Homo sapiens: one gene and its partners. The protein of the gene in region 3 purifies or fractionates together with the protein of the main gene of each other region. This does not show direct contact. Each region holds a gene or a part of one and is shown on either strand. Other genes may lie near its edges. The genes, in order: STAM, NNT, EMC8, PDHA1, FAM186B, P4HA1 and LRPPRC.

The links.
Region 1: the proteins of EMC8 (region 3) and STAM purify together in Homo sapiens (affinity purification with mass spectrometry; one large-scale study listed by BioGRID and IntAct). This does not show direct contact.
Region 2: the proteins of EMC8 (region 3) and NNT fractionate together in Homo sapiens (co-fractionation; one large-scale study listed by BioGRID). This does not show direct contact.
Region 4: the proteins of EMC8 (region 3) and PDHA1 fractionate together in Homo sapiens (co-fractionation; one large-scale study listed by BioGRID). This does not show direct contact.
Region 5: the proteins of EMC8 (region 3) and FAM186B purify together in Homo sapiens (affinity purification with mass spectrometry; one large-scale study listed by BioGRID and IntAct). This does not show direct contact.
Region 6: the proteins of EMC8 (region 3) and P4HA1 fractionate together in Homo sapiens (co-fractionation; one large-scale study listed by BioGRID). This does not show direct contact.
Region 7: the proteins of EMC8 (region 3) and LRPPRC fractionate together in Homo sapiens (co-fractionation; one large-scale study listed by BioGRID). This does not show direct contact.

What each region holds. Positions count from the first base shown.
Region 1 is NC_000010.11:17,685,181-17,689,748, reverse strand, and holds part of STAM (signal transducing adapter molecule 1), read right to left. Parts: intron 1,723-4,568; coding exon 1,576-1,722; intron 1-1,575. UniProt on the Homo sapiens protein: Involved in intracellular signal transduction mediated by cytokines and growth factors. Upon IL-2 and GM-CSL stimulation, it plays a role in signaling leading to DNA synthesis and MYC induction. May also play a role in T-cell development.
Region 2 is NC_000005.10:43,651,680-43,655,179, forward strand, and holds part of NNT (NAD(P) transhydrogenase, mitochondrial), read left to right. Parts: intron 1-59; coding exon 60-205; intron 206-1,338; coding exon 1,339-1,534; intron 1,535-3,500. UniProt on the Homo sapiens protein: The transhydrogenation between NADH and NADP is coupled to respiration and ATP hydrolysis and functions as a proton pump across the membrane. May play a role in reactive oxygen species (ROS) detoxification in the adrenal gland.
Region 3 is NC_000016.10:85,782,545-85,786,044, forward strand, and holds part of EMC8 (ER membrane protein complex subunit 8), read right to left. Parts: intron 1-3,500. UniProt on the Homo sapiens protein: Part of the endoplasmic reticulum membrane protein complex (EMC) that enables the energy-independent insertion into endoplasmic reticulum membranes of newly synthesized membrane proteins.
Region 4 is NC_000023.11:19,350,215-19,354,211, reverse strand, and holds part of PDHA1 (pyruvate dehydrogenase E1 component subunit alpha, somatic form, mitochondrial isoform 1 precursor), read right to left. Parts: intron 2,953-3,997; coding exon of another isoform or gene 2,932-2,952; coding exon 2,805-2,931; intron 1,131-2,804; coding exon 1,039-1,130; intron 1-1,038. UniProt on the Homo sapiens protein: The pyruvate dehydrogenase complex catalyzes the overall conversion of pyruvate to acetyl-CoA and CO(2), and thereby links the glycolytic pathway to the tricarboxylic cycle.
Region 5 is NC_000012.12:49,591,500-49,596,067, reverse strand, and holds part of FAM186B (protein FAM186B), read left to right. Parts: intron 1-1,609; exon of another isoform or gene 1,610-1,988; intron 1,989-4,568.
Region 6 is NC_000010.11:73,086,427-73,090,994, forward strand, and holds part of P4HA1 (prolyl 4-hydroxylase subunit alpha-1 isoform 2 precursor), read right to left. Parts: intron 1-4,568. UniProt on the Homo sapiens protein: Catalyzes the post-translational formation of 4-hydroxyproline in -Xaa-Pro-Gly- sequences in collagens and other proteins.
Region 7 is NC_000002.12:43,971,549-43,976,116, reverse strand, and holds part of LRPPRC (leucine-rich PPR motif-containing protein, mitochondrial precursor), read left to right. Parts: intron 1-899; coding exon 900-1,026; intron 1,027-1,358; coding exon 1,359-1,503; intron 1,504-1,821; coding exon 1,822-1,967; intron 1,968-2,216; coding exon 2,217-2,322; intron 2,323-2,402; coding exon 2,403-2,510; intron 2,511-4,568. UniProt on the Homo sapiens protein: May play a role in RNA metabolism in both nuclei and mitochondria. In the nucleus binds to HNRPA1-associated poly(A) mRNAs and is part of nmRNP complexes at late stages of mRNA maturation which are possibly associated with nuclear mRNA export.

The DNA of each region.
Region 1 (4,568 bases), on a different chromosome or scaffold from region 3:
AAGAACCAAAGACTCTAGATATTTAGTGGGCTTGCATTTTCTCTACCTATTCTAGGTGGGTTCTCTGCAGTGAGTCTACTCTTTGATAAATAAACATTGTTTCTGTTGTCAAGGAATGTATAATGTCTTGGATTATTCTGTTTAAGATTTTTCCTTAATTATACAGATTCTAGAAACTATACTGAGTAGTAAAAACCAGCTATCAGTTATGAATGAATGAATTTTCAAAGACATAATTTTTTTAAGAAAATTTTAAACCAAAATTTTTTTAAGAAGAAGAATGTCCTTTGCTTCCTTCCTCTCCCAGATACATTTTTGAGTCTTCACATCTCAAGAGTGCTCAGATAAACTGGAAATGCCTTGGGAAGAAAGCACATGTAGGTCTGGATGAATGTAGATAAGCTACATGACTCCCTGAAGTGGTCAAAACATAAGCCCCTCCACACTCACAGATTTCTGTTCATGGTTTCACATCACTCATTACAGTCTGTCCCAGTCAATAAACTGGGGAAAGACAGTGTAGTAAATCAGCACATATTTTAAGCCTCTTGATTAGTTGGGCATCCTAAAGGAAGGTTACCCAAAATAGAAATAGGAATAAAAAAGACATTTCTTGATTTTTTTCTACATGACATAAATTAGAGACTGAATTTTTTTGGCACAAGGGTGGACAGGAGAGCAAAGTTAAGCTATTTAGCCATATCCACTGGGGAAAGGAAGACTTATGTACTGGTCGGCTCTTACTAAGGAGAAAATGCTTCAGGTGCTTCTCTTCCCATTTACCCCTTCTAAAGTCCTCTCATTGTTAATAGAGGAATTCATAAATTTCCTCCACAAAAGAATCTCTCAAGTCATCCCTAACTTTTAAGGATATCCTGATTTCTGAGCTATCATTCTTTGTAGAAAATTATAGCATTAAGAGCATTTAAAAAGACAGTGTTACCTAATTAATAAAGCTATTTTGTGTATATTATTAAAACTGTACTGGCTGGGCCTGGTGGCTCACACCTGTAATCCTAGCACTTTGGGAGGCCGAGGCGGGCAGAACACCTGAGGTCAGGAGTTCGAAACCAGCCTGGCCAACATGGTGAAACCCACCTCTATTTAAAAAAAAAAAAAATTTCCAGGTCTGGCTGCACGTGCATGTAGTCCCAGCTACTCAGGAGGCTGCGGCAGGAGAATCACCTGAACCCAGGAGGCAGAGGTGGCAGTGAGCCGAGATCACGCTACTGCACTCTACCCAGGGCGACAAACAAAGACTCCGTCTCAAAAACAAACAAACAAAAACTATACCAAAAAATTTCAAAAACTGCAAAATGTTAAACCAATTCGTTTATAAAGAAGTAGAGAGGTTAGAGCACATTAATATTCCATTATAATACTTTTCTGGCACCTCTGAATGCCAGAAAACTAGTATTACTAACTAGCAATACAACTAGTTACTAACACAATTAGCTAACGAAAATTCCTCTGAAGTAGTAAAAATTACCTGGGAATGAAGAAAAAAATTCAAATAAATATAGCTATTTAAGAGAAACAAACTGTAGCACACACACAACTTCATTCCCAAAATACCTGAGAGCCAATAGCTGGGAACGTAACTCCTTGTTCCTTAAGGTTCTTAATCATTGCTGATATTAGACTAAGCTGTGGATCATTCTTAAATTCATCTGTCCATTCAACCATAAGAGCCTTTAATTTTTCACATACTTTAGGATGACCCTGTAAAATAGAAAAAGAAATAAAAGAGCACCAATTTCCTAGCCAATGATTTAATACAGACATTTTAAATAGTAAAGTTATTAAGTGATGTTTTTTGAATCACAAGTTATGCATAGCTATAGACAAGAAAATATAGTTATTCGAAATAAAACTAATGTTCACACTATGAAAAAACCCATCATATATATCTCACTTCAAATTAAAGCATTAAATAGGTAATAAGATTTTGGAGATCTGAAAGGACTTTTCAGAATATTTTGCAACGAAGCAAGGTTTGTACATCAGTAAGACAAGGAAAAGTGTCTGCTTTTTGCAAAGCAATAAAAAAGTGGGAAGGAGAGAATAAATGATACAGTTCCTTTATTCCAAATTCCTGACTTCTTAATGTTCATGACTATGCATTTTTTCCATGATGCTTAATTATCTGGGGCCTAGTTTGAGGTACACTGCATGTTAATCATTTTGAAAATTTAATTTCTTCAAAATAACATAACTTTTTTTCCTTTCTTTTCTTTTCTTTTTTTTTGGTTTGTTTTTTGAGACAGAGTCTCACCCTGTGGCAGAAGCCGGACTGCAGTGGCTCGATCTCAGCACACTGCAACCTCCGCCTCCCAGAGGGGGGTGGGGGATGCGGTTCAAGCGATTCTCTTGTGTCAACCTCCCGAGTAGGATTACAGGCGCGCACCACCATGCCCAGCTAATTTTTGTACTTTTAGCAGACGCGGGGTTTTACCATGTTGGCCAGGCTGGTCTTGAACTCCTGACCCCAACTGATTCGCCCGCCTCAGCCTCCCAAAGTGCTGCGATTACAGGCATGAGCCACCGTGCCCAGCCCAAAATAACATAACTCTTTATGGTTGATGTATAACAAAGATTCAAGTTAGTCTAAGGCAGGTGTGCAGGGCATTATTCTTCCGTATTAAAGAAAGAGATAAATGTAGTGAGTTTTCAAAATAAATTATTTTACTCATTGCTTATTAAGGGAAAAAACCTGGCCAGTTCATTAAAATACTGATGTATCTTCATAGCGGCAATAATTTGAAGTCTTACTATTTGATGTAATAGATATAAAGAAACCTTCACAGATACCAGAGAAGAAATAACTCCTCTATGAAATGTCATGAATGTATTTCAAACCAATGCTTACTAAATAATTGGCTAAAGCTTTTAAAAATGGAGAAGGTTAGACTTTTAGATTACTCTATTAGAAGAAAAAAAATTCTTTCTAAGTGCACATGTAATCTGTATTTTGGTCAAGGAGCATATAATGGATTTGCAAACGCTTTATTGAGACTATACATGAACTTAATTTGTTTAATAAAAGGAAATTTTTTAAAAGGGCAGGATGTTGGCTGGGCGCGGTGGCTCATGCCTGTAATCCCAGCACTTTGGAAGGCCGAGGTGGGCAATCACAAGGTCAGGAGTTCGAGACTGGCCTGACCATCCCCATGGTGAAACCCCATCTCTGCTAACACTACAAAAACCAGCCAGGCGTGGTGGCGCATGCCTGTATTCCCAGCTACTCAGGAGGCTGAGGCAGGAGAATCACTTGAACCCGGGAGGCAGAGGCTATAGTCAGCTGAGATCACGCCACTGTACTCCAGCCTGGGTGACAAAGAGAGACACTGTCTCAAAAAAAAAAAAAAAAGGCGGGATGTTATTAAGTACAAAACCAATATGTTCACTGTAAAACATTCAGAAAATAAAGAGAAGTCCTCTTGCCTATAGGAAGTCGTTTTTGGAAATGGCTGCTTGCACTATTATACATAGGTAAGTATACCACATTTTTCACCTACATTACAAAAAACATGGTATTAGAATCTCTTCATAAACAGTTGTAATCTCGATGGACATTCAGGACATTAAAAGACAATGTTTATTAATTAGTAGAAAATAAATATTAACTGCATAAAGCAGGAAAGGGAAAGAATTATCATTTAACCATGATGTTCGAAAAGTACAGAATTTTACATTCTTACTATATTTCTATACTGCTATTTTTCTACTGTAACCTGGAACTATTCATTTTTCCCAAAAACATGAGGCATTTTCCCTTTTAACATACAAAAACTTTTTCTTGATTTACAGTACTCCCCCTAAAAAGGCCAAAAATAATTACTTTTAGAATGCACAAATTTTTACTGGGGAAACTCACATATTACTAATTGAAAATTGAAAAATTTCTTGAACTGTGTGACTAGAATTCTACAGTTGAGTGGGCAGTTGTAGGGTCCCCAGTTCTCCCTGCTTTCTTTCTGTGTCCCAATAGAAAAACAGAGTGCCTTGTCCCGCTCTGTGACCTAGCCAGCTGCATGTTTTCCACCATAGGTTTGGACCCAAACTGGGGCCTTGAACATTCTCAGGCACTGATAAAGTTGTTCAGGTTGTGGCCCAAAACACTAAAAGATCAAGTATGTTGCTAAACACACAGAAACCAGCCCCAACCCTGAGCCAAATTCCTTAAACCCTCCTATAAACTGCAGCCCTCCTGTGTAAGTTCCCCTAATAAATCCTTTAGACTGATCACCCTGGCATTTAGTGCCTCTTTTTTTGGACTCTCATCTGGCCCTATCTGGAACAGTTTGGGGCAGTCCCTTGTGGAAACTCCCCCGCCACCACTTTTGAGGCAACTCCAGCTGTGGGTTCAGCCAGTAAGAATAGCAGTATAGTATTAAAATCCTGTGATGGCCAGGAAGCAGCCTTATTGATAAAGATAAAAACTCAACGGTGCCATAGACTTTTTGCAGTGTTTCTGAAAGGTTTTCCATTAGGAAAATACCTTGTGCCTACAAAAACAGTATGTAAAATAGACTGATATTATTTAATTAGATATAGAAATACCTGTT
Region 2 (3,500 bases), on a different chromosome or scaffold from region 3:
CATGTTGCTCAGTGAGCTCAAAGAGGTACTATGTTTTTTATTTCCTTTGGTTTGCTAAGGTGGCTTTCTGGTGACTCAGAGAATGCTGGACATGTTCAAGCGTCCCACTGACCCCCCAGAATACAACTACCTGTACCTGCTCCCTGCCGGCACCTTTGTTGGTGGATATTTAGCTGCCCTCTACAGTGGTTATAACATTGAACAGGTAAGATGCTCTTTGTAAGTTTTTATATTTACCACAATATTTTCTTCTCTATTAGATTTAACATTGTTAGTTATCCTAATTCAAAGTATCGAGCAAATACAACTCTGTCAAGCAAATACAACAATAACCCTAGAAACATCTTGGTCAAACTGAGCATTCTCTTCCCCTAAGGATCAGGACCCTGGATTCTAGAGACAGATTTTTCTGGTAACTGAGTTTAAATATGGGTTTATGTCTTTGTTTTGATACATTTTTCCACATGTAAGAGGAGTTAAGGTTATCAGTATCTTCATTATGTATCTAGCTAGATTGCGGTGGATTTATAATGAAACAATACAAAATTTGAAAAATTATTATTAAGTACTATTAGTTCTTTTCCTATTCTTCCTCTACAAATCCAGCACATCATCTCTTGCTACTAAGAGATGTTATATATTCATAAAAAAATCCATAAAGAAAAGGATAGTTTAAACTTAATGTTGTATAGAAAAACAGAAATAATCCAGCTGGACTTTGAAAGTTCCAACTTGTAATATAACAGACCTTCAGCTTTGTTCTGAACTCTGTATTTTCTATTTCTTTTCAATGGCTGTCTTTTAGTTTCTTCTATGTTTCCAACCTGCAGTATTTATTGAATGAACAATTTTTTTTTTTTTTTTGAGAAGAGTTGGAGCAGTGAGTCAGAAAGACCTTAGTCTGAATTCCAGATTTCCAATTTATTGATCATTTGCCTTGGAGAAAATATGCAACTTCTTTAAGCTTTGATTCTGTCTTTTGCAAAATGAGGATAATGATTTTTCCCTCTTGTGGATCTCATGACACTGTGACAACACAAATAAAACATGTGGCAAAGCCCCTGGCACTTACCTCAGGGGTTGGCTCTTTTACAGCATTTGGTCAGGTTTAGTATTTTTAGATCCAGTAATGACTCCATTTAAATTTAGGTACTTTTATGTGTATTTGTGCATGATAGCAAATCCAGAAAAAATCAATTTATATAAATGGTATAAGTGCAAATACAATATAAGTATTTAATATGTTAATATTCCTAATTGGCAGGAAAATATATTGAAATCTCTAAGCTAATAGACCAAAGGTTTTAATAATCTCTCTCTCACTTTTCCTTTGAAAAGATCATGTACCTAGGCTCGGGTTTGTGCTGTGTCGGTGCCTTGGCTGGCCTCTCCACCCAGGGAACAGCACGTCTTGGCAATGCACTGGGCATGATTGGGGTTGCTGGAGGACTGGCAGCCACCCTCGGAGTCCTAAAACCGGGCCCAGAATTACTAGCTCAGATGTCTGGAGCGATGGCTTTGGGTGGTACCATTGGTAAGCACTTGTGGGCTTCTGCCTTCATGTGAACTCCAGTTTCTCAATATATATTTCTAAGGTCCATATTGATGAAATAATTAAATTTTGTTCATGGAAGTTGCTTCAGTTAATATTATTTTGGTGAAAATTCATTCCAGTTGGTGTAATTCTCATTCAAATACATTTTAGAACACTGAATAAATGCATCAACTGAGTCAAAATATCCTATACTCAATTCTTATCTTCCTTTACTGACTGTGTCCCGTTAGCTGATAATGGAATGGGGGATTGGAATCCTTATGTATGTACTATACATAAGCTAACTTTTGTTCTGCTGGGTATAAATAACAGCCAAAGATTCTGCTTCATAGACCTGTTAAAAATGAAAAAAAAAAAAAAAAACATGTGCCAGCAGAAAAACTACTGTTTTAATTTTATTCAGTTGTTTGCTGGATTGTTAAATTTTCAGGAATTTTTAGGCTGGGCATGGTGGCTCAGACTGTAATCCCAGCACTTTGGGAGGCTGATGTGGGTGGATCACTTGAGGCCAGGAGTTTGAAACTGGCCTGGCCAACATGGTGAAACCCCGTCGCTATTAAATATACAAAAATTAGTTGGGCATGGTGGCGTACAACTGTAATCCCAGCTTCTTGGGTGGCTGAAGCATGATAATCGCTTGAACCTGGGATGTGGAGGTTGCAGTGAGCTGTGATCATGCTGCTGCACTCCAGCCTGGGTGACAAAGCGAGACTCTGTCTCAAAAAAAAAAAAAAAATTTTTTTTCCAGGAATTTTTAAAGTTGATTGTTAAACACAGCCATTATTAAATACTAAATTACATAAACTTAAATGAATCAGAAACAAAGTTAATAATATTAAAAACTCGTAACTTTCTAATTAATTTACTAGGTTTTATTGTCTATGCTCTTGAGGTTACTTATGTCTATTGTATGTGTATAGAAGAAATACTATGTATCAGTGGGCTGTGGTACATCTCTTTCCAATTCTACATTCAATGACATCACATTGGTAGATTGAAATTTGACTTGGTAGCAGTATTGCAGTGTGGAAATAAGCAAACGCTACAAATCTGGGCTTGATTTATTGTTTTGTTTATTGTCCAGACGTGAGAAAGTGATGGAGAAAATGTTAATGATGCAGCTTAAACTTGAGATGTTTTGACTGTAGCTGTGACATTGTGAATAGCACAAATAATTGAGCAAATAATCTTCCAGTATTTGAAAACTATTATCAGATTCAGCAATAAAGTCATTCATATGGTTGATAAATGAGTGAAGTTCTCGCATACATTCTGTTGTTTTACTTTCGTCTTACTTATTAAAGCAAATAAAAATATCAAACAATGTTCCTGTTGGAAGTATGCTTGTTCATCAGTTGCAAACACTAGGTTGGCTACAGATGTAAGAGTTTAGCAAAGATCCATAAAAACATTCTTTGAAAGTCAATTTGTCTACATGGAATTTTCAGTAAAGAGCACTATTTCTTATTATTTGAAAATTGTGTGCTAGCCACCTTTATATCAGTTAAAGCTCATGTATTTGTATGTGCATGTATTTTTTTCCCCTGGAACTGGTTATTAAATGTTTCCCAGTGGAACACTGGCTTTAGGCCTCCTTTTATACTTCCTCAGGAAAGCTTTGACTCTTTTCTTGATAATCTCTGGGGAAAGGGACTTGAAGGAAAATGTTTGCTCTGTAGGTTCATGGCAGGAAAACCTTTAGACATGATCTTAGCAAATATTCTGAGCCCCACTCCTTCTGTATCACCTACCTATAGCCATGCAGTTCCTTCAGAGGCTCCTAATTTGGGTATTTACTGCCCAGATTTTTGCATTTCTTTACCTTGGGACTTTGCTCCCACCTACCCACCTGAAAACCAAGGTCTTCTTCATGTTCCAGGTGTTTCTTATGTGCTCAGGAGAAAGCACTGGCTATAGAGAAGAGGGCCTGGGTTGCAATGGGGAG
Region 3 (3,500 bases):
AAACAAAAGCATTGAACCGGTTCCCTCTAGCTGCTGTCCAGCTTCCCTCCTCCCTTCCATGACTGTTTCTTCAACTTCTTTAACAAGCCGCTAGTCTTGCTCCATGTCCTCACCACAGCTCTGTGCAATCTGCCATCTAACCCATTCCCTTGCAGAGCAGCACTCCGGAAGTCTCCTGACCACTGCCTGATGGCCCCAAGACTGCTACCCCCTCAAAAGCCTCCCAGCGGGAACCCACCACTCTCAGGCAGGCCAGTCCATTTCCAGCCTCTCCGACCTGAGGCCACCTTTCCCTCTGCTCTTCCCCACCCTGCAGGCCACAGGTCCTTTCTCTGCCCTCCTTTCCTGCATTCTCCCTGTCATTTATTTCCTTCAGTCTCTCACCTTAGGCAGGGGCTTCTAAAACTGCTTCCTAACCGGTCTCATAATTTCTACGGTCACTCGCTCGCTCTCTTTTTTAAAGAGACAGGGTCGGCTGGGTGCAGTGGCTCACGCCTGTAATCCCTGCACTTTCGGAGGCCGAGGCAGGTGGATCACCTGATGAGGTCAGGAGTTCGAGACCAGCCTGGCCAACATGGTGAAACCCTGTCTCTACTAAAAATATAAAAACTAGCTGGGTGTGGTGATGCACATCTGTAGACCCAGCTACTCCGGAGGCTGAGGCAGGAGAATCGCTTGAACCCGGGAGGCGGGGGTGGCAGTGAGCTGAGATCATGCCACTGTACTCCAGCCTGGGCAACAGTGAGACTCCACGTCAAAAAAAAAAGAGACAGAGTCTCGCTTCGTTGCCCAGGCTGGAGCATGGTGGCTATTCACAGGTGTGATCATGGCCACAAACTCCGGGTCTCAATCAATCCTTCCTGCTCAGCCTCACAAGCAGCTGGGACCACAGGCACGTGCTACGAAGCTCAGCTTAGGCTCTTCTTATCCGATGTAACCTGAAAATTCTCCTGAACTAAATTTTCCTAAAACAGAACTTCCATCACGTCCCCTGGTGCTCACAGCCCCACAGACTACTGCTCACCACTGCCTGCAAGATGAAGGCTGCTATTCTCAGGCTGGCAGAGGCAGGCCTTCGTTACGGTGAACTGAGCTACCGTGTGCAGCCACAGGGGCAATGCTGTGTCTTCAATGTCAGGAAATCTGCCTACATGTCATCTGCCTCACATGCCCGTCTTGTTTCACTCACACTGTCCCGTCTGGCCCTCCACACCAAGGCCTCCTTACTGAATTGCTTCCCCTCTTTCAGTGCCCAGAAGACATGCCACCCTCACCACAAAGCCCTGCTAAACCCTGGATGAGACCCCCTGCCCTGCTGGAGTTCTGAGGATTTATTTCTAAGAGGCTCTAACACAGAGTCCATGGCACGTGCTGCTTTCCTTCTGTGCATCCTGTCTGCCCTGCACAATCAAGGCTTTCAGCTTTTTGTGGCAGGGACCAAGCCATCCATCTTTCTTTTTTTTTCTTTTTTTGAGATGGAGTCTCACTCTGTCGCCTAGGCTGGAGTGCAGTGGCGCGATCTCGGCTCACTGCAAGCTCTGCCTCCCGGGTTCACGCCATTCTCCTGCCTCAGCCTCCCAAGTAGCTGGGACTACAGGCGCCCGCCACCACGCCCAGCTAATTTTTTGTATTTTTAGTAGAGATGGGGTTTCACCGTGTTAGCCAGGATGGTCTCGATCTCCTGACCTCGTGATCTGCCCGCGATGGCCTCCCAAAGTGCTGGGAATATAGGCGTGAGCCACCGCGCCTGGCCCCATCTTTCTTTTAACAGCCATAAAAATACATGCATTATTGTGAGTTATTTAACAAAGCACACTATATACAATTACAATCCTTCCCTTGTGATTAGGCTAAAAAAAATTAATAATGTTTTTAAAAAACAAATTATTTTATATGATTATTGTATTTTCGTTTTCAAAATTGACAAAGTGATGTACTGATTATAAATCTGCAGTATTAAGAAAAATATGACTTAAAAATGTGACTGTGTTAAGAAAAATATGACTTAAGAGGGAAGGGGAGGTTTTCAGGTAGAAGCCAATCGTACTGAAGAAAGCAGTGCGATGGTGGCTCCTAGCGCAGAGGGAAGGCAGTGCTTCACTGCACTGACCAGGACTCGGTGGGCGCCAGGTCCCCACAGCACTAACGGCAAGTGGTGAAGAGTGGGTACAGAGCCCTCAGGAGGCCTGCCCATGTACCCACCTCTGCCTGCTCCTGCATTTGCTGAGGAACTTGGAAAGCAAAAGGCAGGGCCGCTTGCCATGAAGAGCTTGCAAAGCCCTTACCCTCCTACTTAACACTGATCATGCTGGTTGTTGATTTTTATTGGGGAGAGGGTAAGGAAACACTCATTAAAAAGAAAAACTACCATTGCAGATGCTCAAGAACTCTTAACATCTGTCTTTCTATTCACTGATTTTTGAGATGGGGTCTTGCTCTGTTGCCCAGGCTGGAGTACAGTGGCGAGATCATGGCTCACTGCAGCCCCAACTGCCCAGGCTCAAGTGATCTCCCACCCCAGCCTCCCTTGTAGCTGGGACCACAGGCGTAGGCCACCATGTCCAGCTAATTTTTGTATTTTTTTGTAGAGATGAGGTCTTGCTATGTTGCCCAGACTGGTCTTGAACACCTGGCTCAAGAAATCCTCCTGCCTTGGCCTCTGAAAGTGCTGGGATTACAGGTGTGATCCAACATGGCTGGCCTAAAATTTATTATTTTAAAAGAAGTCTAAAAATTTGTAGTTGGCCGGGTGTGGTGGCTCATGCCTGTAATCCCAGCACTTTGGGAGGTTAAGGTGGGTGGATCACTTGAGGTCAGCAGTTCGAGACCAGCCTGGCCAACACGGTGAAACCCCGTCTCTACTAAAAATACAAAAATTAGCCAGGTGTGGTGGCAGGTGCCTGTAATTCCAGCTACTCAGGAGCCTGAGACAGCAGAATACTTTGAACCCAGGAGGTGGAGGTTGCATTGAGGCGAGATCGTGCCACTGCACTCCAGCCTGGGTGACAGAGTGAGACTCTGTCTGCTCTGCCACCGCCCCGCCAAAAAAAAAATGTGTAGTTAATGAACTGTCAAAGTATTTGAAACAGCTGCCAACTTTGCATTTCTCTGTCTTAGGCACTGAATCTCCAATACTGATCCACTTGATCCTGAATGAAGACTGCCACGCTGTGGTTCCTGCTAGTCAGGAACTCCTTGTTCCTAGGAAGAGCCAGCTGCCAACTGAAACTGCAGGCACCCTGAAGGCAGACCACTCTGCTCACCCTCAACAGCACCATGTCGGGCCAGCGTGTAGGTGCCATCTTACAATGTGTATCTAAAAGCTTCCTCCTGAGTGTCTGCCTCAGGCCAGGGCTCTCTGCCGGGCACCGAAACCTACTCATATCAAATGCTAACTATGAAGCAAAACACTGGCCAACAATGAATCATATAATAAAACTTGATGGAATGACCTAAAGTTTAGGAAATTCATAAAAGTTATAAACACTACGTTAGAACAG
Region 4 (3,997 bases), on a different chromosome or scaffold from region 3:
CGCCTGTAATCCCAGCACTTTGGGCAGATCACGAGGTCCACAGATCGAGACCATCCTGGACAAGATGGTGAAACCCCGTCTCTACTAAAAATACAAAAAATGGTTGGGCATGGTGGCACGTAACTATATTCCCAGCTACTCGGGAGGCTGAGGCAGGAGAATTGCTTGAACCCGGGGGTGGAGGTTGCAGTGAGCTGAGATTACACCACTGCTCCAGCCTGGGCGGCTGAGCAAGACTCCATTTCAAAAGGAAAAATAAAACCTAGGTTTAAAAAAAAACAACACATAATAGAATCTTAATATATTAGAAAGGAAAAGAAACAGTCCGGATATAATTTTGTGCTGTTAATTCTTCATCATTCACTAACTGATGAGAACAAGGACCCCAAAATGAAGTTGACAAGATAAAGCAATTAATGTACTGAAATATAAATAGGAAGGGGAAGGTATGGCTCCACTGCTAGAGGTTCCTGCTTACTTATAAAACAGCAGACACCTAAAAGGAAACATTATAAATCACCATCCAAATCTACTCATCTCTCAAACGGTAGGATATGAAGCACTAGGTCTTTAAAAGCAAACCAAGCCCCCAAAATAGTCACGCGTCACTTAACAACAGGGATATATTCTCAGAATTGCATCACTAGGCGATTTTGTCATGTGAACACCATACTGTAATGCACGAACCTAGATGGTACAGCCCACTGCACACCTAGGCTGTATAGTAGAGCCTACTGCTCCTAGGCTACAACCCTGCACAGCATGTGACTCTACTGAATCCTGTAGGCAAAATATTTGTGTACCTAAACGTAGAAAAGGTAATGTGTTGTGCCACTACAACATCACTAGGCGACAGGAATTTTTCAGCTCCATTATAATCTTATGGGTCCAACATCATATATGCGACATTGACCAAAGCGTCACTGTGCAGCACATGGCTGTACTACTTCAGGAAAAGTTGTCTGGGGCTGTGAAAGTTTTTGAAGACAAAGTCCAGGGCCAAATCTAAAGCAGCACACAATCCTCGTCCTTGACTACCTGCGCTCCCACGATGCCATTGCCCCCGTAGAAGTTCTTGGCATACATGTGCATCGATCCTCCTTTCCCTTTAGCACAACCTCCTTTTCGTCCTGGAAATGGCAGAACATACACATGTGCAGAACAAACCAACTCTACAAAGCAAACCAAACCGCACCCCAAATATGTACTCTGAGGCTCAACCATTAGAACACAGAGGCCAGTTCAGTCGTCTAAGTACCTGTCCCTCCAGGCAAACACATGTTTCTCCTTGTCCTTTCACTAGTTCCATGTGCTTCAACCTTTCCAGCTTTTCCTACTCTCTAGTCACTTAGTTTCCTTCAGATGTTCCATCCAGATGATACCCTGGACTTTTCTGGGTTTTCTGGCCAGTTACAAACATCTTAGGACCTCTCCTATACTAGTACACTAAATATATTCAATCCTTGAACAGGGTTTGAACTGCACAGGTACACTTATACACAGATTTTTTTTCAGCCACACATGTATTGAAAATAGAATATTCTCAGGATGCAAACCCGAAGATATGGAAGGCTGACTTTGGGACTTGAGTATTTGAGGATTTTTGTATACTCGAGGGTCCTAGAACCAATCCCCTGGATATATAGAGGGACAACCATAGTTCAAGAGTCAAGGAGGGCCGGGCACGGCGGCTCACGCCTGTAATCCTAACATTTTGGGAGGCCGAAGAGGGTGGATCACCTGAGGTCAAGAGTTCAAGACCAGCCTGGCCAACATGGTGAAACCTGGTCTCTACTAAAAATACAGAAATTAGCCAGGTGTGGTGGTTGGGCACCTATAATCCTAGCTACTCAGGAGGCTGAGGCAGGAGAATTGCTTGAACCCGGGGGGCGGAGGCTGCAGTGAGCCAAAATCATACCACTTCACTCCAGCCACTCCAGCCTGGGTGAAAGAGTGAAACTCTGTCTCAAAAAAAAAAAAAAAAAAGGAGGAGGAGGAGGACCGGGCACAGTGGCTCACGCCTGTAATCCTAGCATTTTGGGAGGCTGAGGCAGGCCACTGCACTCCAGCCTGGGCAACAAAGCGAGACTCTGTCTCAAAAAAACAAAACAGGCCAGGTGCGGTGGCTCACGCCTGTAACCCCAGCACACTTTGGGAGGCCAAGGCAGGTGGATCACCTGAGGTCAGGAGTTGGAGACCAGCCTGGCCAACATGTTGAAACCCCATCTCTACTAAAAATACAAAAATTAGCCAGGTGTGGTGGTGCATGCCTGTAGTCCCAGCTACTCAGGAGGTGGAGGCATGAGAATCACTTGAACCCGGGAGGTGGAGGTTGCAGTGAGCCGTGATCACACCACTGCACACCAGCCTGGACAACGGAGTGAGACACAGTCTCAAAAAAAAAAAAAAAAAAAAACCACCAAAACAAACAAATAGTCACGGGGGACAAAGAAAAGGGGAATATTAAGAAGATTTCTAGAATTTACATTGCATACCATGGAGTGCTTCAACCGAACTTACTTTCTATGACTGCTAGACTTCTTCTGGCATGCTTGAATGATAACCAAACCTACTGTGATTTTATAGCACCAACCTGTTTTAAACTTTTACCTGAGGGGCCAGAGAACTTCACAAATGGTCAGTTAACTCAAGAGCACAACAGAAGTACCAGAGCACCAAAGGAGAGAGGGTTAAAAAAAGAAACTTAAAATTTTTAACAAATATTAACTCATAATAGCATCTTAATGACAGATATTTAAAAACTTAATCCACTCATTTCCCCTTTCTGTAAATCAACAGCAAACCTGTAAGCTCTGCGAGAATTTCTCGGACGGAAAGGCCCCGGGTGAAAGTAAAGCCGTGAGCCCGGTAGGCTGTGATGAGATGGTCTGTGGGGTTGATGCCGGCCTCCAGGCCCACACAGCAAGCTTCCTGTGTTAGAGGAAGGAGAAACTATGAGGCAATATGATACATGTTTCTAAATAAAAACGTTTCCTAGACCACAGTGAAATATGTGGGCTAGTAGAACCTGTCATTAATAACCAGAGAAAGTAGCTATTTTCCACCAAAATACAGAGTGGAAGGCCCAAACCAGAAGCAATAAACTGGCAACCCACACATGTGCCACTTCCTTCCTTTCTCCTGTATGATGACCTAAAAGAAAAGCCTACATCAGATGTCAACATTAAAACACTGGGGAATTTCACATGAAAATCCAGACTTCCGCCTTCTCTTAGACATGGAAAACAGGAAACATTACCCCTGATTTCCACATGGCACCAACTGGCTGGAACCAAGTCATGGCATTCCTCTGGGTAGGGCATGCTGGTGCCAGTTCAGCATGAGTCCCTGTCACCATTTTCTGTTTTGTATACCTAGCCTTCTTCACTCATTTATTCTACCTGGCTGGCCCTTGTAGGTATTTGACTCTAACCCTTGACCTAAGCCCACAAAACAAAAAACAAACTAATCCTTTCTCTCCAAATTATATACAGTACAGGCGATCATAGTGCCAGAAAGTTTTAAAATAGTAAAACTCTAAGAACAGGTACAGAAAACTGGCAATGTTATGTGTGAATGAATTCTTTAGCCTAAGCTTCATAGCAGGTTTTGGCATTCTACTTTTTAATTCTAAAATACTGGCTTCAGCCAGGCACAGTGGCTCACGCCTGTAATCCTAGCACCTTGGGAGGCCAAGGTGGGCGGACCACTTGAGCCCAGAAGTTTGAGACTAGCCTGGGCAACATAGTGAAACCCCGTATCTCCAAAAAATACAAAAATTAGCTGGGTGTGTTGGTGTGCACCTGTGGTCCCACATACTCGGGAGGCTGAGGTGGGAGGATTGCTTGAGCCCAGTGGACAGAGGCTGCAGTGAGCCAAGATCACACTGTACTCTAACCAGAGGCTGCAGTGAGCCAAGATCACCACTGTACTCTAACCTGGGCGACAGAGAGAGACTGTCTCAAAAAAATAAATAAATAAAAGAAAATTACATTAC
Region 5 (4,568 bases), on a different chromosome or scaffold from region 3:
GAGAATGGATTCCTAATGGCCTGTTTCTCTAAGTGATCGTCACATTTCGCTGCTCTAGTCTTATTTTTATTTATTTATTTTTTTGAGACGGAGTCTCGCTCTGTCGCCCAGGCTGGAGTGCAGTGGCGCCATCTCGGCTCACTGCAAGCTCCGCCTCCCAGGTTCACGCCATTTTCTGCCTCAGCCTCCCGAGTAGCTGGGACTATGGGCACCCACCGCCACGCCCGGGTAATTTTGTTGTATTTTTTAGTGGAGACGGGTTTTCACTGTGTTAGCCAGGATGGTCTCCATCTCCTGACCTCGTGATCCGCCTGCCTCAGCCTCCCAAAATGCTGGGATTACAGGCGTGAACCACCGCGCCCAGCCACTTGCTGCTCTAGTCTTTAAGAACTAGTGGAGCCTTCACTTGAGCTGCCATCTCCTTGCTGCTCAGGGCTTCAACAATTGTAATCACAAACTCAAAGCTGGTCCTAGGCCCTGGGCTTATAAGAATTTCAGGCCGTCCTTTTCCACACGATTCTCAGAGTAGGTGTAATGGCTTCCATTCATCATTTTGTCCTTAGCAAGCGGGAGTGTTGTAACTTTACTTCCAAAACTGATCTCATGAGCCATCAGAGCAGTAGGACCTGCACAGATAGTGGCTATAAGGCCCTTCTGGTTTTCCTGCTCCTTTAGTATCTCCTTCACAGAAGCAGACTCAGGTAAATTCTGTGCACCCAGATTACCTCCTGGTAGAACTACTATGTCATATGGTCCCTCTTTTTTTGCATCTTCAAGACTGGCATCAGGACAAATGAAAACATCAAGGCTACACTGTACTGGGTCTTTTCCAGCCAGACCTGCAATGGTGACCTTAATCCCAGCTTGCCTCATGACATCTACAGGATGACCGTCTCCATTTCCTCTGCTCCTTTAGCCAAAAACTCAAAATAATAATTTAAAACTCAGGTTATATGTTTTCATGCTATTGTAGAACTATTTTATACTAAGACTTTAATTTATACAACGTGAATTTTCCTAACAATAATGTGAGCATATTTTCATGTGCTTATTTGTCATCCATTTATCTCCTTTGGCAAAGCATATTATTGGGTTGTAAAAATTCATCCCATATTCTGGATGCAAGTTCTATACCAGATCTGTATTTCGTGGATATTATCTTTCAGTCTGCGGCATTCCTTTTTTTTTTTTTTGAGACAGAGTCTTGCTCTGTTGCCCAGGCTGGAGTGCAGTTGTGCTATCTTGGCTCACTGCAACCTCCACCTCCCGGGTTCAGGCGATTCTCTTGCCTCAGCCTCCCAAGTATCTGGGATTACAGGCATGCGCCACCATGCCCAGCTAATTTTTGTATTTTTAGTAGAGATGGGTTTTCACCATGTTGGCCAGGCTGGTCTCAAACTCCTGACCTCTGGTGATCCACCCACCTTGGCCTCCCAAAATGTTGGGATTACAGGCGTGAGCCACCACACCCGGCCTGTGTAAGATATTTTGAGAGCAAGAGACCAACCACATTCACGTAACTTTTATTATAGTATATTGTTAAAATTGTTCTATTTTGTTATTGTTATTAATCTCTTACTCTGCCTAATTTAAAAATTAAACTTTATCATAGTTAAGTATATACAGGAAAAACAGTGTATAAAGGGTTTGGTACTGAGGTTTCAGGCGTCCACTGGGGTTCTTGAAATGTATCCCCCAAGGATAAGGGGGATCTACTATATGCAAAACCGAAAGCTATACAACAATGAGAAACATTAAGAGGGAAATTCAGGTGTAAGTGAAGACATTCCTCTGAATTCCCAGGTTTCACTGAGCATCAAAACCCACCAATCTTTCAGTCCTTTTCTTGAATATTATTCTGTATACACATTCTCTGCATCTGATTGGATCCCTGGATTTTATTTCATTTTCTGCATGACATCCTCCACAGATATATATCATTGGCTGCTGCCTTGGGGGTTGAATGTCCTGGGTGTCATTGTGAGCCCCTTTTTACTCTGAGTGTCTTTCTAGTTTTGGCCCAAGTACCCACCACAAACTCCAACCCACCAATTCCCTACCTACCCAGCACTGAGAAATGGCATCTTAATAATATTTATTCTTTCAATTCATGAGCATGCTGTATATCTCCAGTTATGTCTATTTATTTCAGTTTTATAGGTTTATTATTCAAATACTCTGAAGCTCTGTAATTAGGTGCATACACATTTAAGATTGCTTATGTACTCTTGAAAATTTGACCTTTACTATTTATTTTTATAGAGATGAAGTTTCACTATGTTGTCCAGGCTGGTCTCCAAATCTTGCCCTTAAGCGATCCTGCCACCTTGACCTCCCAAAGTATTGGGATTACAGCATGAATCACCTTACCTGGCCCAAAATTTGGACTTTTATCCTTATGAAATGGCCCTCTTTCTTTTCTTTTTTTTTTTTTTGAGATGGAGTCTTGCTGTCACCCAGGCAATGCAGTGGCACCATCTTGGTTGGCTCACTGCAAACTCCACCTCTCAGGTTCAAGTGATTCTTGTGCCTCAGCCTCCCGAGTAGCTGGGATTACAAATGCCTGCCACCACACCTGGCTAATTTTTGTATTTTTAGTAGAGACGGGGTTCGCCATGTTGGCCAGGCTGGTCTCCAATTCTCAACCTCAGGGGATCCGCCCACCTGGGCCTCCCAAAGTGCTGGGATTACAGGCATGAGCCACCCACACCCGGCCGTTTGTTTCTAATTATATTCCTTGCTCTTCAGTGTACATCAGTATTGATATAGTCACTGCAGCTTTTTAAATATTTTTTACTATTTGCATGGTATACCTTCTTCCACTCTTTCACTGTTAACCTCTGTGTCTATATATTATTTACTGGAACACTTCATGAATTTGTGTGTCATCCTTGCACAGAGGCCATGCTAGTAGTCTTCTCTGTATTATTCCAACTTTAGTATATGTGCTACCGAAGTGAGCACTGTGTCTCTATATTTAAATTGGGTTTTTAATTGATACCTTATAGTTGGGTCTTGCTTTTTTATGCAATCTGTCAATCTCTGCCTTTTATTTGGTGGTTTTAGGCTATTTATATTTGATGTGATTATCAACGCAGTTGAGTTTAAATATATAATTTGCTCTTCATTTCTATTTGTCTAATCTGTTCTTTGTTTTTTTCCCTCTTTTCCTGCCTTCTTGTGGAGTAACTGAGCTTTTCAAGTAAATTCATCTTATCTCCACTCCTGACATATTACATATTAGCCATACCTCTTTGTTTTGTTATTTTTTATTTTTATTTTTTGAGAGAGTCTTTCTCTCTCTCCTAAGCTGGAGTGTGGTGGTGCGATCTCAGCTCACCATAACCTCCGCCTCCTGGATTCAAGCGATTCTCATGCCTCAGCCTCCTGAGTAGCTGGGATTACAGGCACCCGCCACCATGTCCGGCTAATTTTTTTGTATTTTTAGTAGAGACACGGTTTTGCCATGTTGGCCAGGCTGGTCTCGAACTCCTGGCCTCATGTGATCCACCCGCCTCAGCCTCCCAAGGTGCTGGGATTACAGGCTTGAGCCACCATGCCCAGCCTGTTTTGTTATTTTATTATTATTATTTTTTGAGACAGAGTCTCACTCTGTTGCCCAGGCTAGAGTGCAGTGGCATGATCTCGGCTCACTGCAACCTCCAACTCCCAGGTTCAAGAGATTCTCCTGCCTCAGCCACCTGAGTAGCTGAGATTATAGGTGCACACCACCACGCCCAGCTAATTTTTGTATTTTTAGTAGAGACTGGGTTTCACCATGTTGGTCAGGCTGGTCTCGAACTCCTGATCATGTGCTCTGCCCACCTCGGCCTCCCAAAGTGCTGGGATTACAGGCGTGAGCCACTGCACTCTAGGGTTTACAATATAAATCTTTAACTTATCATAGTCTACTTTCAAATAATATTATTTCATGTGTAAGAACCTTACAATAGTATACATCTATTTCTTCCCTCCCGGCCTTTGTCCTACTGTTGTCATACATTTTGTCTCTATGTAACTTATAAATCCCCTAATGCAGTTGGCCCTCTGTATCTATGGGTTCTGCATCTGTGGATTCAATCAACCACAGATCAAAAATATTCGGAGAAAAAAATAGATGGTTGTGTCTGTGCTGAACATGAACAGACTTTTTTTTCTTGTTATTCCCTAAACAGTATAACAACTACTTAGATAGTGTTTATATTATATTAGGTATTATAAGTAATCTAGAGACCATTTAATATATACAGGAGGATGTGGGTGGGTGATATGCAAACACTGCACCATTTTATATAAGCATGTGAGCATCCACAAATTTTGGTGCCTGTGAGGAGTCCTGGAGCCAATACCCCACGGATAGCAAGGGACAACTGTACATTGTTATTACTTTTCCCTTAAGCAAAGGGAAAAGAATAATCTATTTACCCCCACACTTAACATTTCCAGTGCTCCTTACTCTTTTGTGTAGATCCAAATGTATTTTGGGTATCATTTTCCTTCTGCCTGAAGGATTCCTTTAACATTTCTCACACTGCTTATCTGCTGGTGATGAATCCTCTCAGCTTTGG
Region 6 (4,568 bases), on a different chromosome or scaffold from region 3:
GTAGATTAGTGGTTGCCCAGGGTTAGGCAAGGGACAATGGGAGTGACTGCTACTGGCTCTGGGGTTTCTTTTTGGAGTGATATAAATGTTTTAAAATTGATTGTTGTGGTAACACAACTGTGAATATATTAAAAGCCACTGAAATGTATACTTTAAAGGGAAAATTGCATGGTACGTGAATTATTACTCAATAAAACTGTTTTAAAAAAATTAAAAAGAAAACAGGCTGGGAGCGGTGGCTCACGCCTGTAATCCCGGCACTTTGGGAGGCTGAGGCAGGCAGATCACTTGAGGTCAGGAGTTCAAGACCAACCTGGCCAACATGGTGAAACCCCATCTCTACTAAAAATACAAAAATTAGCCAGGCGTGGTGGCACATGCCTGTAAATCCCAGCTACTTGGGAGGCTGAGGCAGGAGAATTGCTTGAACCCAGGAGGTGGAGGTTGCAGTGAGCCGAGATTGTGTCACTGCACTCCAGCCTGGGTAAAAGAGTGAGAGTGCATCTCAAAAAAAAAAAAAAAAAAAAAAAAAAGAGGAAATCAACCTAAGTTCTCATTTCACTTGGGTAAATACCTAGGAGCGGGAATGTTGGGTCATATGACAAGTATATATTTACCTTCATAAAAAACTGCCAAACGTTTCTCCAAAGTAGCTACACTATTTGCCCTTCCAACAGCAAAGGATGAAAGTTTCCATTGCTCCCATTCTTACCAGCATTTTGTATTGCCGTTTTTTCCTTAGTTTCTCTTAATATCTTAATTTTCACAATAGACATATAGTACTATCTCATTATGGGTTTAATTTGCAATTCCATAATTACTAATGATGTTTAATGCCTTTATTTTTTTTTTTTTTTTTTGAGACAGAGTCTCACTCTGTCGCCCAGGCTGGAATGCAGTGGCACAATCTTGTCTCACTGCAACCTCCACCTCCTGGGTTCAAGTGATTCTCGTGTCTCAGCCTCCTAGGTAGCTGGGATTACAGGCACGTGCCACCACACCTGACCAATTTTGTATTTTTAGTAGAGACGGTTTCGCTATGTTGGCCGGGCTAGTCTTGAACTCCTGACCTCAGATGGTCCACCCACCTCAGCTTCCCAAAGTGCTGGGATTACAGGCATGACCCACCATGCCTGGCCTATGTTTAACACCTTTTGGGGTGTTTATCTGCTGTTCATACACCTTCCTGCATAGTGTCTACTCAAATCTTTTGCTCTTTTTAATTAGGTTGTTTACTTTTTTTAATAGAGATGGGGTCTTGCTATGTTGCCCAAGCTGGTCTCAAACTCCTGGATTTTCAAGCAATCCTCCAGTCTTGGCCTCCCAAAGTGCTGGGATTACAGACGTGAGCCACCATGCCCAGCTTTGAGTTCCTTATACAGTCTATTTTTTGTCAGATATGTGATGGGGAATATTTTCTCCCAGTCTGTGAAGTCTTTTTATTCTCTCAACAGTGTGTTTGGAAGAGCAGAATTTCTTAATTTTGATGAAGTCTAATTTATCAGTTTGTTCATTTATGAATCATGTTCTTGGCATCATGTCCAAGAAATCTCTGCCTGACCCATGGTCAAAAATATTTTTGTCCTATGTTTTCTTTCAAATATTTTATAGCTGTACATTTTACTTCACAATCTATGAACATTTTTTAAAATAGAAACGGGTCTCACTCTTGCCAAGGCTAGTCTCAAACTCCTGGGCTCAAGCAATCCTCCTGCCTCAACCTCCCAAAATGCTGGGATTACAAACGTGTGCGACCAGACCCGGCCTACGAACCATTTTGAACTAATTTTTGCATACAGTGTCAAGTACAGATTGAGGCTCTAATAAAAAGATTTCATTTTGATGTTTGAGTGCAGATTGCCTTCAGGTCCCACACCTCTCTCCCTTTTGTCCCACATCTGGGTAAGTCTGTAAGAAAGCCCAGGTACTCCCTCCCTTGGTATTGGTGTAAAGTTGAAACCATATAAATACCACACTTGGGGACCAGTATTCCCTCCCTTGGTACTGGTGTGAAGTTGAAACCATGTAAATACCACACATGGGGACCATCAAACAAGTTCCACCTTCTGGTCAATAAAAACCAAAGCCACCCACCCTGTTTCACTCTTGCTTCATCCTGGACTAAACCTAAGTCCTTGACCTTGAGGAGTCCTTTTGCTGTTTACTGTGTGATTAAACTTTATTTCATATCCACTGGTGGATTCATGTCACTTGTCCCAATATTCACATAAATTCCTGGGCAAGGGACTGCCCAGTGTCCAACAGTGGATACTTGGTGCCCAAATAAAACAAAGATTGTTTTTTCTTTGCATATGAATATTCAACTGTTCCAGACTATCCTCTGTTGAACTGCCCTTAAACTTTTTCAAAATGAATTGACAATTTTTGTGTGACTAAATTCTCTATTTTGTTCAATTGATCTGTATGTCTATCTTTTCTCCAATACCACAGTCTTGGTTATTGCAGCTTTAAACTAAGTTGAAATCAGGTAGTATGAATCTTCCAACTTTGTTATTCTTTTTCAAAATTGTTTTAGCTTTTCTAGTTCCTTTGGTTTTCCATATTAATTTTAGAATCGGCTCATTAATTTCTATAAGAAATCCTCTGAGATTTGGACTAGAAATGTGCTGAATCTATAAATCAGTTTGAGAAGAGTAGGTATCTTAATACTGAGTCTTCTAATCCATGAACATGATATAATCAGTGTTTCATAATTTTCAACATACAAATATTACACACCATTTGAAAAGTTAATACTTAAGTATTTCATGGTTTTTAGTGCTAATGAGATGGGAATTTTTCACTTTAGTTTCTAATTGTTCATTATTAGTATATAGAAATACAATTTACTGTTGTATATTGACCTTCTAAGCTACAACTCTGCTGAATTAACCTATTCACTAGAGCTTTTTTGAAGAGTCACAGACATGTTGTCTGTGAATAGAAACTGCTCTTTGAAGCACACTGTTTAAAGAATGAAGACAAGCCAACAACTGGGAAAAAATATTTCCCTATCACATCTAGCTATTGCACTCCTAGGCATTAATATAAGAGAAAAGAAAGCATATCTCTCTCCAACAACTTGTACATGAATGCTCATAGCAGCTTTATTCATAATAGTCAAAAAGTGAAAACAATCCAAATGTCCATCAAAGGGTAAATGGGTTAAAAAAAATCATGGTATATTCATAAAATAAAATACTATTCAACAATAAAAAACTATGAACACATAACAACATGGATGAATCTCAAATTATGCTGAGTGTAAGGAGATTCCCCGTGCTAAAAAAAAAAAAAAAAAGCGTATATACAATTCCATTTTTATAAAATTCTAGAAAATAAAAACTAATCTTAAGCAACAGAAAGGAAACAATGGTTTCCTAGGGATACAGAGAGGGTAGTAAGGAGCAAAAGAAGGGATTACAAAAAGTCATAAGGATACTGCCGATGCCCCGGCTAGAGTGCAGTAGCGTGATCTTGGCTCACCGCAGCCTTAATCTCCAGGCTTTGGGTGAGTCTCCCACCTCAGTCTCCCAAGTAGCGGGGACTGCAGGCACACAACACCACACCTGGCTTTTTAATTTTTTTGTAGAGACAGGGTTTTACCATGTTGCGCAGGCTGGTCTTGAACTTCTGGGCTCAAGCAGTCCTCCTGCCTCGGCCCCCCAGAGTGTTGGGATTACAGGTGTGAGCCACTGCGCCTGGCCAAGTATACTCTTTTTTGAGACAGAGACTCATTTCGGTCACCAGGCTGGAGTACAGTAGCACAATCACAGTTCATTGAAGACTCAACCTCCCCAGCTCAAGCAATCCTCCTGCCTCGGCCTCCCAAGTAGCTAGGATTACAGGCAGGCACCATCACACCCAGCTAATGTTATTTTATTTTGTGTAGAGATGAAGTCTTTCTATGTCGCCCAGGCTGGTCTGGAACTCCTGGGCTCAAGCAGTCCTCCTGCCTCGGCCACCCAAAGGGTTGGGATTACAGGCCTAAGCCACTGTGCCTGACCTTGAGGATACTCTTGAAGGTGATGGATATGTTCCTTATCTTGATTGTACTGATATTTTTTTAAGTAGATATTTTTGTCAAATTTATCAAATTGTACACTGTAAATATATGCAATTTGTCCTGTCAATTTTGCTCAATAAAGTCGTTAAAATATATCAGTTTATTCAATTTATTAGTAATCACCCTTATATCAAAGATTAGTGTTTTACTTATTACTATCACTCTACTTGGTGGCAATGGTCACTATTCACTATTTTCAAATACAATATTAAGGTTTTTTAAATTCAGGCATAGTAAATTGAGGTCTATTTTCAAAATATCTTTGAGGTTAAAGGAAGTAACTGCAGGCCAGGTGCGGTGGCTCATGCCTGTAATCCCAGCACTTTGGGAGGCCGAGGCTGATGGATCACCCCCGGTCAGGAGTTCGAGACCCGCCCGGCCAAGATGGTGACACCCTGTCTCTACTAAAAATACAAAAAAGTAGTCGGGCGTGGTGGCGGGTGCCTGTAATCCCAGCTACTCGGGAGGCTGAGGCAGAGAATTGCTTGAACCCAGGAGGCAG
Region 7 (4,568 bases), on a different chromosome or scaffold from region 3:
CTTAAGTGATAGATGGCTGAGATGCTAAAGTGGTCATTTTACTCCTTTTTTGTTTGTTAAGTGGGGTTTAAATTAGAGAAAATTATTGTAGACAGTTCTTAAAATACATTTGTCTATCCCTTCAAAAAAAAATCTGTAGTATATGAGGTAGAGCATACTAATATTTTTATAATGAGCTTTTACATTTGTTCCACAAATCTTTCTTTTATTTGAATTTTTAGAAATTGGGCTTGAAGCCGGGCGTGGTGGCTCATGCCTGTAATCCCAGCACTTTGGGAGGCTGAGGTGGGCAGATCACCTGAGGTCAGGAGTTCAAGACCAGCTTGGCCAACATGGTGAAACCCGGTCTCTACAAAAATATAAAAATTTAGCCGGGCATGATGGCAGGTGCCTGTAATCCCAGCTACTTGGGAGTCTGAGGCAGGAGCGTTGCTTGAACCCGGGAGGCAGAGGTTGCAGTGAGCCGAGATTACACCATTGCACTCCAGCCTGGGAGACAGAGCAAGACTCCATCTCAAAAAAAAAAAAGAAAAAAGAAACTGGGCTTGATCTGATCTGAAGTAACTGCTCTGGAAAATATTTTTATTTTTGAAGAGTAATTTACTAAATGTTATTCTTACCTCGAAAGTTAAGTCTGAGTCATAACCTACATAATATTAAGAGGGTATGTTATTTAATGTCTATGTAATTATTATTATTTTTTAATGGGGGATCAGATGTTTATGATCTTTATTATTTCAGAAACATATATCCAGTTTAATATACATTAGTTCTTTTCTGACATCATAATTCCAAATGGTACTTAGCATTTTTTATTTTAATAAGCATATGTTTTAGTTTGAATAACTATATTAAATTTGGCAAAAGCATAATAATCTGTTTTTTGAATTAACTTGTAGTGATATGGAGAATGCAGAAAACATTCTCACAGTGATGAGAGATGCCGGAATTGAGCCTGGTCCAGACACATACCTCGCATTATTGAATGCATATGCTGAGAAGGGCGACATTGACCATGTTAAGCAGGTATGACTTATGTCTAAATAAACATACTTTAAAATCATTTGTAAAAATTTGTGTTATGTTTTACATGAGGCAGGAAAGTGAAGTTTATACCTGTTTTCAAAGATGTTTCCTTGCAGAAAGTAGTATTTATGGAGAATTATTATAGTTTAGTATCTCGGTGCTGGTATGTAACAGTTACTGTTGAAGTAGAGTATTTCCTGTTTTTTAAAAGAAGTCGTAAACCTTTAGGTGGTATTTTTCCCTAGTTTTTTGAATCTGGATATTTTATTTAGCTTTAATACTTAAATAAAAACACTCTAACTTTGTCTTCTAATTTCTGGAACTCTCTATAGACTCTGGAGAAGGTGGAGAAGTCCGAGCTTCACCTTATGGACCGTGATTTACTGCAAATTATTTTTAGCTTCAGTAAAGCTGGGTATCCTCAGTATGTCTCAGAAATTTTGGAAAAAGTTACATGTGAAAGAAGATATATTCCAGGTAGTTTTAAAAAAATCTATTTACATGATTTTTATAAAAATCTGAATTGCTATTCTTACATGATGGAAAGGACATTTTCTAACAATGGGCATTGTGGGAGTTGAACATAGAACTCTTAAAGTCAGTTAAATAAGCCCAAAAACATGAGTTAATGAACACATGGGGATGATTTGATTTGCAGGTGTTTTATTGTTATTTAGGCAGTTATATGCTTTTGATGTTTGCAATTCTTATTTTGTCTTCAGTATTGGAACATTGGTTGCAGTGTAAAAATATTGTTCAGTTTATTAACAAAAGATGTCTTTGTTTTCTTCCCAGATGCAATGAACCTCATTTTACTTTTAGTCACTGAAAAATTGGAAGATGTAGCGTTGCAAATTTTACTAGCATGCCCCGTATCAAAGGAAGATGGCCCAAGTGTCTTTGGCAGTTTCTTTTTACAACACTGTGTGACTATGAATACGGTATTCTGTCCACTTTTACTTTGTAGACAATGTAATTGGCAGTGAAATAAGATTCTTTAAAGTATAGGAACATTTATAAGATTAGACCAGTTGTAAACATCATAACAATGTTCTTGTGTTGCAAGATTTTTGGGTAGAAAGAGGATGCGGGGTTTAAAATGCTCATCTCAGAAGTGGTAGAATATTTGCAGCAGGTCAAACGGTGGGGTGTTTGCCAATCCAGCTAATGTGGTGACTTTTTTCCCACAGCCTGTGGAGAAGCTAACAGACTACTGTAAGAAGTTAAAGGAAGTCCAGATGCACTCCTTTCCTCTGCAGTTCACCCTCCATTGTGCTTTACTCGCCAATAAAACTGGTACTACATTCTTAAAGTTAAAGCCAAGTAAGGAAGTTTTGCTGAGGTAGCTTTGTGATCTTTTATGATATCTCTTTCAGATTTGGCAAAAGCCTTAATGAAGGCTGTGAAGGAGGAAGGTTTTCCTATCAGACCTCACTATTTCTGGCCATTGCTAGTTGGACGTCGGAAGGAAAAAAATGTTCAAGGTTAGATTTTGCCTTTTACCGATTTGTAATGGTTCCCAGAGCCAGTATGACAGTTTGCACGCACATCTAATTGGATTCTTTGGAAAAGCATACTTATTCCTGAGTATTATGAGATAATGGAATTGTTTTAAGTCATCATGAAGTATTATGTGTAAGCATTTTAAAAAACAAAACATGATGGATTTCTTTCATCTGAATTTCATTAATTTCATTTCTTATTTCATCTCTGATCTTGATATTCAAACTTAATGAACGTAGTTTTTTTAAGTTCTTAAAAAAACTCTTTAGTTCTTGATTTTATATATAGTGTTTGAAATCAGATTGTCTACCTTTAATAAAGATAAAGTTGTATATACAATTAGGTTCATGAAAACAAAAAGTATGGTCATTTTCTTTGTGGGCCAATCTATTTCTTTTTAACTGAGCTTAGTTAGAATAATAGGAAAGGCAGGAAAACTTTTATTGTGAAATGAGTACTCATGACCTGACAGCCTGCTGATTGAAGGACAAAAATGTTCAATCTTTCAGGTTCTTAAGTACGTTTAAGCATTTATCATACTTTTCCCTTGTACACATGGGATGTCTATAGGATATGAATAAGAATTGAACAAATATTAAATTTTAGAGTACAGTATCTAATTCTTCGGTTTGCATTATTGGTAATTCAGAAAGAGTAGTCTCATAAAAAGATGCTTTTAACAGAAGTACTTTCCCCTTGGGGAAACAAAAAATGGTCTTTTTCATTTTATCTCGAAGTATAATGTGCTTTGGAATGAGATGCAGAATTGTTAGTGTGACATTGGGTGACAAACAGAATGCACAAACAACAAAAAAAGTGCTTTTAGCAGACTTTCATATTGCAATTTTATTTTAAATGTACAGCCGTCTTCTGGTTTAAAGGAAATAGTGAAACAAGTATTCCCTAATTGTTTCTGGCTATAAAAGTCTCTAAATCCTTTTTAGAAAAATCTTTGTGAAAACAATATGCTAGTTTGATTAACTCTTTGTATATCCTCCAGTCTGAAAGCTCCAAAAGGTAACCTATAACCCAGTGTTTTGGAACCACAGAAAGTTTACATCATTCCATCAAACTCTTCAGGCATGTTAGTATTGTCCACCTTTACACAAGTATGAAAATTTTTTTGGTACCAGTTGAAATGTTTGTTCATCAGGTTAATCTGCTTTCCACAACCATGTCACAGTTGAATTGATTACTACATTTTTACTACTTAGTAAACATAAAAGAGTTAGGTAATTTCTTTCTATGGTTGTAGCAGTTGAAATAGTAGAAAATGGGCTTTATCTCAAATCCATCTTGTCTTAGAATCTCAGAATTTAGATTTTAAAAGTGCTGTACTGAAAGCTCACATTACGTGAATGAAGGAACTGAGGGCCACACAGACATTCAGTGACTGACCTTAGCTTCCACGTCTAGGTGTGATTAGGCTGGGATTAGAATAGAGGGTTTCTGTCCTCCTTTTAAAATATCCTTTTTTATACTATAACCCTTCCATATTCAGCTTTTGTAAGTACTATACTGTGTTTATTTTCTAAAAATTCTTAGCTGCTGTTTAAAAATTAGTTGCCAGTTTTTACACGAATAACATTGCTAAAAGAGAGTGAATTTTTTAATCGATGAAGGTTTTGTCTGAAAAAATATAAAAGTTTATGCTTTTATATTGTGTGTTCTGAGAGTGCAAAAGATTGTCAGTTTTACAATTTTTAAAAACAATATATTCTTCTTTGCAGTAGGTCCTGAAAGATAGTAAAGTATATATTCTACAGTCTTCTTTTATATAACAGAGAAATGGCTGTATGTATTCTTTATAGTTTCTTTAGTGTAAGGTAAGAAAGTAACATTCTTATTAGTGCAATGAACTTGTTCTTTGTCCAGTGAAAGTCACGTATAAAATGGTAGAAATCACAGAAGAAAGTGACTGCAGTGATGGAGGATGTGCTGTGTTTCATGAGGAATAAATACATCTCTTCAGAAAATCAAAGATATTTGGGGATCAGACAAAGTGGAACCAAGAGTTTTCAACAATAGGATAATCAAGT